Linked DNA regions of Homo sapiens: all the other regions are linked to region 3. The links come from fine-mapping of genetic effects on gene expression. A gene starts in region 3. Each other region holds a variant in brackets. All regions are shown on one strand. Distances are from middle to middle.

Evidence for each region. PIP is the estimated chance that this variant, and not a neighbour inherited with it, causes the effect. A credible set is the group of variants that fine-mapping cannot tell apart.
Region 1: its variant is the best candidate, but not a certain one, in a credible set for the expression of TSPAN14 in nucleus accumbens (GTEx, PIP 0.55).
Region 2: its variant is the best candidate, but not a certain one, in a credible set for the expression of TSPAN14 in visceral fat (GTEx, PIP 0.60).
Region 4: its variant is the best candidate, but not a certain one, in a credible set for the expression of TSPAN14 in aorta (GTEx, PIP 0.80).

The regions. Positions count from the first base shown.
Region 1 is chr10:80,514,446-80,517,047 of GRCh38, forward strand. It overlaps TSPAN14 (tetraspanin 14), which reads left to right. Exons shown (of 9, transcript NM_030927.4): 8 at 1,759-1,878. Among named protein-coding and RNA genes, the nearest start is that of TSPAN14-AS1, 20 kb to the right of the region's middle. The variant G/T (reference allele first, on the strand shown) is at 1,594.
Region 2 is chr10:80,483,084-80,485,685 of GRCh38, forward strand. The region is part of intron 1 of TSPAN14 (tetraspanin 14); the gene reads left to right. Among named protein-coding and RNA genes, the nearest start is that of TSPAN14, 30 kb to the left of the region's middle. The variant G/A (reference allele first, on the strand shown) is at 1,117.
Region 3 is chr10:80,452,851-80,455,452 of GRCh38, forward strand. TSPAN14 (tetraspanin 14) reads left to right here and starts at 1,460. Exons shown (of 9, transcript NM_030927.4): 1 at 1,460-1,521. RefSeq lists enhancers at 816-1,025, 1,769-2,286, 2,236-2,495, 2,526-2,575 and a silencer at 1,056-2,105.
Region 4 is chr10:80,522,402-80,525,003 of GRCh38, forward strand. TSPAN14 (tetraspanin 14) reads left to right here. Exons shown (of 9, transcript NM_030927.4): 9 at 1-230. Among named protein-coding and RNA genes, the nearest start is that of TSPAN14-AS1, 12 kb to the right of the region's middle. RefSeq lists an enhancer at 665-744. The variant C/T (reference allele first, on the strand shown) is at 1,098.

The DNA.
Region 1 (2,602 bases), 62 kb after region 3:
GGAGGCAGTAGTGACAAAGAGGGAGGCAGGCCTGGGGCAGGGGCGAGGCTCTGTCCTCCAGGACTTCCTTTAGGCTGTAGGGAGTGTGCTCTTAGATGCAAAGAGAAGGAAGACCCCACCCCACTCCAGTCCTTGTTCTAGTGGTCTTTGGTGATATGAATGACTGCTGTTCTAAAAGGGAGGAGTCTCGAGGAATCTTCAGAGACCCCACCTGTTAGCCGTGGATATGAGGGATGTGTCCCTACAGCTTGGGGAACTGTCCTCCTTTAGGGACCTGCATTTCACAGGGAGAAAGTGCTGTAAACTGAATGTGTGTGTCTCTCCAAAATTCACATGTTGGAACTTAAACTCCAATGTGATGGTATTTAAGAGGTGGGGTCTTGGGGAGGGGATTGGGTCATGAGGGCAGAGTCCTTATGAGTGGGATGAGTGTCCTTATGTAAGAGGCCCAGAGAGCTTATTTGTCACTCCACTGTGTGAAGACACAGTGAGAGGGTGCCATCCATGAACCAGAAAGTGGGCCCTCATCCGACACTGAATTTGCCAGTGTCCTGATCTTGAACTTCCCGGCCTCCAGGACTGTGAGAAATAAATTTCTGTTGTTTATAAGCCACCTAATCTATAGTATTTTATTCTAGTTGCCTGAATGGACTAAGATAAGAACCTATATCAACATCAGCTTCCCTAATTATGATTTTTTTTGCCACTTATATTAATTTGCTAAGGCTGCTGTCACAACATACCACAGACAGAAATTTAAGCCACAGCAGGCATTTATTTTCTCACAGTTTGGAGGCTAGAAGTCCAAGATCAAGGTGCTGGCGAGGTGAGGTGGGTGCCTTCAGAGGGCTGTGATGGAAGGGTCTGTTCCAGGCCTCTCTCCTGGCTGCAGGTGGCTGTCCTCTCCCTGTGTCCTCACGTGGGCTCCCCTCTGTGCATGTCTGTGTCCTGATCTCCTCCTCTTAGCAGGATGCTCTTCATATTGGATTAGGGGGCACCCTGATGGCCTCATTTTAGCATAATTACCTCTGTAAAGAGCCTGTCTACAAATACAGTCACCTTCTGAAGTCCTGGGGGTTAGGACTTCAGTGTATGGATTTTGAGGACACAATTTAGCTCCTAACACCTCTAAAATTAGGGGCTAATACTCCATCATGTTGCCATGGAGGAGGCTGATAGGTGTGAGGGGGCTGGGGCCGATTGCCCTGTGTGGGGTGGGCAGGGCTGGGGTGTGTGCTGGGATGGTTACTGACACCCCACCGGGGTTAGCAGTGGAGGGAGCTGGTTGGCTGGCGACTGTTGCCTGCTGGCTCTGTCTCCTGGAGCTGAGCTTACTGGTGGGATGCCCGCTCCGAGAAGCACCCTTCTTCTCTTCTTAGGAGACTCTGGACCCCCTTCTCCAGGTTTCTCTCCCTTTAGAGGCACATTTTCCTCCAAGCCTTCAAGCCCCTTCTCTTTCTCCAGATGTGGATGGTGGGGAAGGGTATCTTGAGAAAGTTGGGCTTTAAATCTCTGGAGACCTGAAAGGAAACAGCCAGGGAGCCTTTGGTCAGACAGGTGGTGCGATGGCACAGTGCCCAGCGAGGGGCAGAG[G/T]CTGAGAGGAGCTGACGAGCATCTCCTGGAGAGTCCTCCTTGCCTGCCTCCTGGATCCCTCGTTCCCACCCTGCTTTGCCCTGCTCCTTACCAGAGCTCACTAGGGGATCAGGTGGGGACATCGTGTGTGCCAAAGGCTCAGACCCCTGTGGTGTTTTCCTGCAGCTGAAGAGCAAGTGGGATGAGTCCATCTTCACGAAAGGCTGCATCCAGGCGCTGGAAAGCTGGCTCCCGCGGAACATTTACATTGTGGCTGGCGTCTTCATCGCCATCTCGCTGTTGCAGGTGTGTCCCAGGAGCCTATAGGATTGGCAGGTGGCCTTTTTTCATTTGAGATTGGGCCCTTAACATAGAGTGCATGGGTCCAGTTTGGGTATGGTATTAAGGAAGCTTGCAGAAGAAAAAAAGGGATTCAACTGGATGTCCAAGGCTGAGAGAGTGTATGCGTGTAAGTGTATTGGGGAGGAGAATGGTGGCTTCCATAAACGCTACCTATAGGGGGGCCCTCTGGGCGGGGGCAGGCTGGGAGGGGCTTGTGGCCCTGCACAGGTCCTGGTGGCAGCCCTCTCCAGAGGGCCCAATGGGCTGCAGAAGGGTCACTGCCTATCTGGAGGTAGGTCAGGAGTGTGCTCGGGGTGGGCCATCAAGTGCTGCAGATGGGGAGGTGAAACCCTTGGTCACCTGGGGCCTGAGGGTGGCCTGAGGCTCACGTGTGTGCACTTGCCCCAGGACCTCTCCTCCTGTCTCTGGCCCCTGGGCTGGAGTTGTCAGGTATCTTCCCTGTCCATGAGACATCCTCTGAGGCCTGCTGCCGTTTGTGGCATCCTTTCCTCTCCCAGGCTGTGCTTGTTCATTTGAACCAGGTTGCACATGTGGGAGGATGTTGGTGGCTGAGCAGGCAGTGAGGCCTGGGGTGACTGGGCTGGTTGGTGACTGCTAGGAGAAGAACTGGCAGAGAAAGTCAAGAATTCAGTGATCAGAGAAACCAGGAGTCTTTCCAGTGCTGTTC
Region 2 (2,602 bases), 30 kb after region 3:
AGAATGTGCTACTTTTTTAATTTAAAAAAGGGCAGGAGGGAGGAATATTAAAGGTGAGTACAACACTGAAGCCAAGGAGCCCTGTTTATGATGACTGCCAGCCTTATATATTGTAGCAAGCATTCTCCTTCCCAGCAGGGGCACCTCCAACCAGCAGCGGCCCCATTTTCATTTATAATACAAAGGTGGTAATGGTAAGTGTGATGCTGGAAACCTTTTTGGAAAATCACTTGTAAGTCCACCACCACCCCATGCAGCCATTTTCATGCTCTTAACATTCCACTTTGGCCTTTAAGCACATGCTTACAAATTGTCTCATAATTGCAAACCATGAGGTTCATGTTTCACTTAATGTGTATTCTTTTTCTGGAGGCAAATTCTTAGTCATTAGTTTATTGATTAAGGGTGTGACCTTTTTTTGGGTGGTAAATGTAACCATATTGCTACCAAATGGTAGTAACCGTTTCATCTGCTGCCAACAAGGAATAAATGTGTTTGCCACAATAGTGGTGGCAATTTTGTTAAATTAAAAAGTGTAAAGTAGGCCGGGTATGGTGGCTTATGCCTATAATCCCAGCACTTTGGGAGGCTGAGATGGGCAGATCACCCAAGGTCAGTAGTTCGAGATCAGCCTGGCCAACATGGTGAAACTCCTGTCTCTACTAAAAATACAAAAATTAGTTGGACATGGTGTCGGTCGCCTGTAATCTCAGCTACTCAGTAGGCTGAGGCAGGATAATCACTTGAACCCGGGAGGCGGAGGTTGCAGTGAGCCAAGATTGCACCATTGCACTCCAGCCTGGGCAACAAGAGCAAAACTCTTGTCTCAAAAAAAAAAAAAAAAAAAAAAAAAAAAAAAAAAAAAAAAGTGTAAAATAGGCCAGGCACGGTGACTCACGCCTGTAATCTCAGCACTTTGGAAGGCCAAGGTGGGCGGATTGCTTTGAGCTCAGGAGTTCAAAACCAGCCTGGGCAACATGATGAAACCCCGTTTGTACAAAAAATACAAAAATTAGCCAGGCCTGGTGGCATGCACCTGTGGTCCCAGCTACTCCAGAGGCTGAGGCTAGAGAATCACTTGAACCAGGGAGGCGGAGGTTGCAGTGAGCTGAGTGC[G/A]CCACTGCACTCCAGCTTGGGCAACAGAGCAGGACTTGTTTAAAAAAAAAAAAAGTGTAAAATAGTATATCTGGGTTGTCTTTAAGTTTTATTTCTAGTGACATTGAAAATTTTTCCTTTTTTTTAAATTTTTTTATTTTTTAAAGACCGGGTCTTGCTCTGTCACCCAGACTGGAGTGCAGTGGTGTCATCACTGTTCATCACAGCCTGGACCTCCCAGGCTCAAGCGATTATCCCGCCTCAGCCTCCCACGTAGCTGGGACTTCAGTCACCACACCCAGCTAATTTTTGTACTTTTTGTAGAGATGGTGTTTGGCCTTGTTGCACAGGCTTATTTTTCCATTTGTTACGTTATTCTTCCCTTTGTTATTCTTTCCTTTGTGTATAATGTTCATATCCTTTGTTCATTTGTGTACAACGGGGGTCTTTTTGAAGTATGGGTCTCTATAGGTTGCAGATATTTACTGTGTCATAATTTTTTCAGCTGCAGATAACATTTGTGTTTCCTTTTTTATTTTAATGTTACTTTTATTCATGGGGATTTTTTAGATTTGTTATCTGTTCAGGCTTGGTAGTCTTGTGCTTTGAATTGTTTTTTCCTGTTGCCTCAAAAGTTGAAGGTGGGTAAAATGGACTTGAAAACCCTGTTCTCTGGGTGTGGTGTGTGCATGTATGTGCATATGCCCTTTAAATCTGTAAGTTGTTATTTGCTTATTATTTAACTCCCCTCAAGTTGCTAACCAGTTATCTCACTACTGTTAAACAATTCTCCCTTTGCCCTGTTTTGAGAAGTTGGTATTTTGATAAACATGTGCCTCCTTCCTGCCACACTGATGCTTTATTTTCTATCACATTCTTAGAGTTGAGACAGTTTGAGATCCTAATTTTTTTTCTAGGCACACAAAATAGCTTTTGGAGATTCTTCTCTGCTGGAATGGTACCTAACATTTGTGAAAAGTTTACCCATCTCTACTTTTAGGAAGGTTCTTAGTCATGCGTGCGTGTGTGTGTGTAAGATAAAGAGTGTTGGTGTTCTTTGTGGATGCATCTGCTCATAGAGGGCTAACTTCTGCCTTCCTTCAGTATGATGTGGTTTAGCAAATGAGGTGAGATGCTAGGGACCATGGTCATTTTGGGAATCATTTTGGGTCAGATCTGGGTTCTAGTTTCAGCACTACTGCCTTTATCAGCCTTCCTGCATTTTTGTGTAAATGCCCTAGTAGCTCCGTTGGTGGCTCAGGAGCGCTCAGTCCTTTTTTCCTCCCTTGGGGTTCTGAAGCCTCCGAGCCATACCTGTTGTGCAGCTCCATCATTACCCCTCCACAGTCAGAAGGCCACCTTACACTGTGTAGGAGGATGTGGCTTAGGCTGGAGTCCTAATGAGTCTCCCATTTACCTTCTTCAGCTTAAACTATGTGGAGACCAGGATCTGCCAGCCCCACAGAGGGTCAGGACCTGCTTTCCAACCCGCTGGCCAACACAGCAG
Region 3 (2,602 bases):
GTCACAGACAGGTTGCATCCCTCTTAATTAAACAAACAAATAAAATTAGCCAGGCACCGTGGCTCATGCGTGTAATTCCAGCACTCTGGGAGGCAGAGGCGGAAGGATTGCTTAAGCCCAGGAATTTAAGACCATCACTGGCAACACAGCAAGATCTCGTCTCTACAAAAAAAAAAAAAAAAAAATTAGCTAGGTGTGGTGGCCTGCACCTGTGGTCCCAGCTACTTGGGGAAGCTGAGGCGGGAGGTCGAGGCTGCAGTGAGCCATGGTCATGCCACTGCACTCCAGCCTGGGTGACAAAGCGATACCTTAGCTCAAAAAACAACCCAAACAAACCTGGGAATGGACTGAACAGTCTCCATTTCAAGATTTCCTCCTTCCATTGGAATTAACCTGTTGGTTGCTTGTACTGGCATGTGGCAACCAGTCTTAGCCCAGTTTTAATAGATCCCTGTTTGGTGTTACTCAACAGAGAAGACCACTCGGCCCTCAGCCACCGAATAAGTTTAAGAAACAGAGGTGTGGCATGCTTCATTCTACAGGTAGGGAGGCTGAGGCTGGGGAGCCGCCCCTGGCTATCCCTGGAAACCCCTCTACCCCACAGGAATCGTCCCAGCCATCTCTTTAGCGTAAAGGTGAGGAACAAATCTCAGCCACGATCCAAAGAGGGGCGCCACCCCTGGCTGTCCCTGGAAACCCCCCTACACCACAAGAATCGTCCCAGCCACCTCTTTAGCGTAAAGGTTAGGAAGAAATCTCAGCCACGATCCAAAGAAAGCTTGGTATTTTTAGCACCAAGGCCAGAAGGAGCGTGTCCTTACTCCTTGGTTTACAAAGAAATAAAAACCTTTTCCCCATCCTTCTTTTGATTGAAGACTACCCCCGCCCCCAGGCTCCAAAGCCGGGCAGGAACGCCTCTTATCTCCACCACAGCCATTTTCCTAATCCTTCGCCCGCTCTCCACGGTCATCCCGTGTATCCCTCGAGACGCCGCCTCCCACAGCTCGTGCTTCTCCCAGGTTCGGCTCCGACAAGGCCAGAGCGGCGTCTGCGCAGCGCAACGGCTCAGAGCGCTCCCGGCGGCTACAAGTGCCCGGCCCCGGGCCAGGCCCGGCCTGCGCCGCGCACCCACTGGGAGGGCGCGGACCGGGGCCGCCCCAAGCCTCCGGCACCGCCCAGAGCGGGACAAAGGGGCGGGCCGGCGACCCGGCCTCGCGGTCCCCGGTGCCGCGCGGGCCGGGAGGCGGGGTGCGGTGGGGGAGGGGCGAGGCGGCTGGGGGAGGGGCGGGGCCAGGGCGGGCCCAGGCGCCCGGGGCCGCACCGGGCGGCGCAGGGAAGCGGCGCCCCTTCCTCGGCAGACGGCAGGCGCCGCGCCTCCGGCCCCGCCCCTCCGCGCCCCTCCGCGCCCCGCCCCCGCCGCTCGGACGGCCCGAGTCGCGCCCTCCCGCCCCGCGCCGCGGAACTTGCTCTAACTTCCTCGGCCGAGCCGGGCCGCGCCGCCGCTGCCGCCGCCGCGCGCGGGTGAGTAGAGCGCGGAGACCTGGCTGGGGCGTCGGGCCCTGCCCCTTTCTTTGTCTGAGGCCGACTTCCCCGAGCGTTCTCCGGGGGCGAGGGCTGCTCCTTAGGTCCCTGTTTGGCCCCTCAGCCTCCCTCCCCGCCTGCCCAGGAGCGGCCCCGCGGGCGGCGCTGGCTTTGTCTGCCAGGATTGCTCGCTAGAGGTTGGAGGCCTCCGCCGGGACCCCGCTGAGCCGAACTCCGGCGCCGCGCGGACGAGAGCCGCGGCGGGCCCGGGGCCGGCACTCCTGGTTCGGTAGCCCTCGCCCCATCAGCGCGCCCCGGCGAGTGCGCGCCCGTGCCGGGCGGGGTGAGGGCGACGGGAGCCTGGACGGCCGCTGCTGCTCGGGGCTCTGCTTCTCGTCCCCAGCAGCGAGCTCGGGGATGGGCCACCCTTTCGGCTCAGTCACCCACCCTCGGCTCCCAGGAGATCGGGTCCGGGGTGGGGGTGGGCGTAGGCCGGGGCGGGCCGCCCCTTCCTCCTGCCCCGCCGTGGTTGTGCTCAGTCTCCCACGCCGCCGTGGGTCCCACTCTGCCCGGCTTGGGTTTGGGACGGCCGGAGTTTGAGTAGGCGGTGACCCAGCTTCTCCGCGTTAGTCGTGTGGGGTTGTGTTTGGGAGCAAAGCCTGACCCCTGACCTAGCCGGAGTTCTGGTAGAGTGAGGTTTGTGGCTGCGGACTGTGCTTGTCCCGGGCCGCTGCTGCTTCTCCTCCACCCCCAGGGGTGGGGTGCGGGTGGGTAGGAAGTGCCTGTGTGAGGGTGTGTGGAGGGACTTTGGCCCTGGGACCGCAGGAGCACTTGTCTTGGGGACTTAAAGTTGATCTCCGGCGAGAAACAGTCCGTGCTAGGGGGAGTCGGGGGAAGTCGTGGGCCCGGGTACTGGCCTGGGGCTGGGCGCAGAGCGGTGGTGAGTGCGGCGGTGTCACACACTCGTTGGCTGTGCTGGCGCTGCTATCCGGGAGGTCAGGCGGTGCTGGGCGGCTGTGCAGAGCATTGTATTGGAGCCTCTGCAGGTGTGCTCTTGGCAGTGGTCTGCTCTCCAGGGGAT
Region 4 (2,602 bases), 70 kb after region 3:
TCGGGAGGCTGAGGCAGGAGAATCGCTTGAACCCGGGAGACAGAGGTTGCAACGAGCCAAGATCGAGCCACTGCGCTCCGGCCTGGGTGACAGGAGACTCCATCTCAAAAAATAAAATTAAAAAAAAACTACTACAATAAATTATCACCTTGGACTGTATAAAACAACTTTTAAACTAGTCTTTTTAAAAAGTACACTTAAATAAAAATCTAAACATAAGAGAATGTAAAGTGAAAAGTGAAAGTATGTCTTCTGTTACGCAGAGGTAACTACTATTAGGAATCCTTCCTGAAAATGTCCATGCATCTACTCAGGTCATCACACCCATGGAATCATTTTACATACTATTTTATGAGTGTTACTTAATATACTGATCCACAGTGCGTTTTCACGGTCACGCCATCAGTTGTAGGAGTGTGCCAAGAACAGATGGGCCTTGCCTTTGTACCAGAGGAGTCCATTTACAGTTGCAGGTAATAGAAAACCCAATTCAGACTGGCCTAAACAATGAGGGGAGGTTTTGGCTCTTGAAACTGGAAAGTCCCAAGGTGGGGTGAGTTTCAGGTTTGGGTTGATCCAAGTGGCTCAGTGACGTCAACAGGATCTTGTTTCCATTTCTCTGCCTTCCACAGCCTCCCCTTCATCTATGGTGGAGGGAAGGAGTCTACCACAGACAAACCCCGAGCCTCCCCCTGATGGGTGGTGTGGTGGTGAAGCCAGCAAGGGAAGGGATCCCCGGACACACCCCTCCTCATGCTTTATCCCACTGAAACCATGCGGCTGTGAAATGCAGCATCCTCCAGGAGGGGGATGAAGGCCGGGGATGCTGTCAGCTATTGCCATTGCACTTCTGTGGATGGGTGTTACAGTTTTTTGCAGGGTTTTGCACTTACAAGGACATATATATATATATATAAACTACAGTGTTATTGGAATTGCTTCTTACAGTTTGTAAGAAAAAAACATGTTTTTAGAGGAGTTCTCCTGGGAGGTGGGATCACATTTTTTTTTTTTTTTTTTTTTGAGACGGAGTCTCGCTCTGTGGCCCAGGCGGGAGTGCAGTGGCGCAATCTCGGCTCACTGCAAGCTCCGCCTCC[C/T]GGGTTCACGCCATTCTCCTGCCTCAGCCTCCCGAGTAGCTGGGACTACAGGCGCCCGCCACTACGCCCGGCTAATTTTTTTTGTATTTTTAGTAGAGACGGGGTTTCACCGTGTTAGCCAGGATGGGGGATCACATTTTAATAAGTAGGTACTCAGGGCTGGGGTGTACCTGTTGCTGCCTGACCACTGCTGGTGTGTGTGGGTATAAGGTGACAAAACCTCCTACCCCTGTGAGGTTGTTTCAAGGATTAAATGAGTTGAGATGGGTAAGCATCTAACAAAGATCCAGATTATTTAGTATGCATCCCCTGAATTATTGCTAACATAATTTTAATGATTGGGGAATTTTATCTGTGGCTGCCAGTCCCTACGAGAGAGCTGCCTGGGTCACATGTCAGATAGCTCAAGCTTTGAATCACTGAAACGAAACGGTCCACTTCCCTGTCCCTTTAGGAACAAGGCTTCGAGGTCTGTGGCAAGCCTCAGCAGGCATTTGGAGTTCAAGGTCTGTTCTCTTTCTGTGCCATAGAGGTGGGGAGACAAGGTAGGGTGTTGCTTCTTGCCTGGAGCGCAGATGCTACCAGAAACCAACACAACCAAAGTTGCCCGGGAGCCCCCAGAAGCAGCAGAGTGGCCATCAACTGCCAAGGGGCCAGGGTAGGCCACAGAGGCCTGGGGCCCAGGAGGGATGGTCTGTGGGGAGAAAGGGGATTATTGTGAACATCAACGCTGGGGATAATGTGCCCTGAAGACAGCAGCATATCACGTTTGGACGGTTGGTGGACCCCATCTGGTCCCACTCATAAGGAGAACAGAGGCCCTGGGGTGTGCTGGGACTTGCCTGAGGCCTCAGACCGGGACTGGGTGCTCCTCCGCACCTCCTATGAGGGAGGGTGTCCGTGTCTGTGAGGACAGCTCAGCAGGGCTGGGAACCTGGGGGCAGTGCTGGGGGACATGTGTGAGACTAGCGTGTGTGGGCCTTGCTCGGCTTGCCCTGGTGCCCTGAGAAAAACCTGGTATTTGAAAATACACATGGACTGCTGGAAGGTCAGGAAATCCAGGGTTTTGTTCTGAGGCAGTGGAAGTGTTACCGTGAGCCTGTGTTGGCCTCTCTCCTCACTCCACCTGCAGCCAATTCAGCCACACTGCCTTTGCATGGAACCCAGGGTTGCAGGCCGCGTGTGTAGATGCTGATTTAGGCCCAAGCACTCAGCTGTCAGCAGGAAGGACCATAGTGTTTTCTTCTAGTTTTAGATATGCACTCGTTCTGTGTTTTAAAGTCACAGCTGTGAGCCAATATGGGAAGAAGTGAAGTGGCCTCTAGGAGGGACTGAGCACCCTGTCCTTGGAGGTATGCAAGCCCAGGCTACACCCTTCCTGTCTGGGATGATATGGCTGGGGGTGGGCTTTGTGCTGCGTGGACCATGGCAAGCCTTTCCATCTCTGAGAGGTAGTGGTCCTTCCCGTGCCTTCTGTTAAAGATAATTTTTTAAAAAAAGGCATA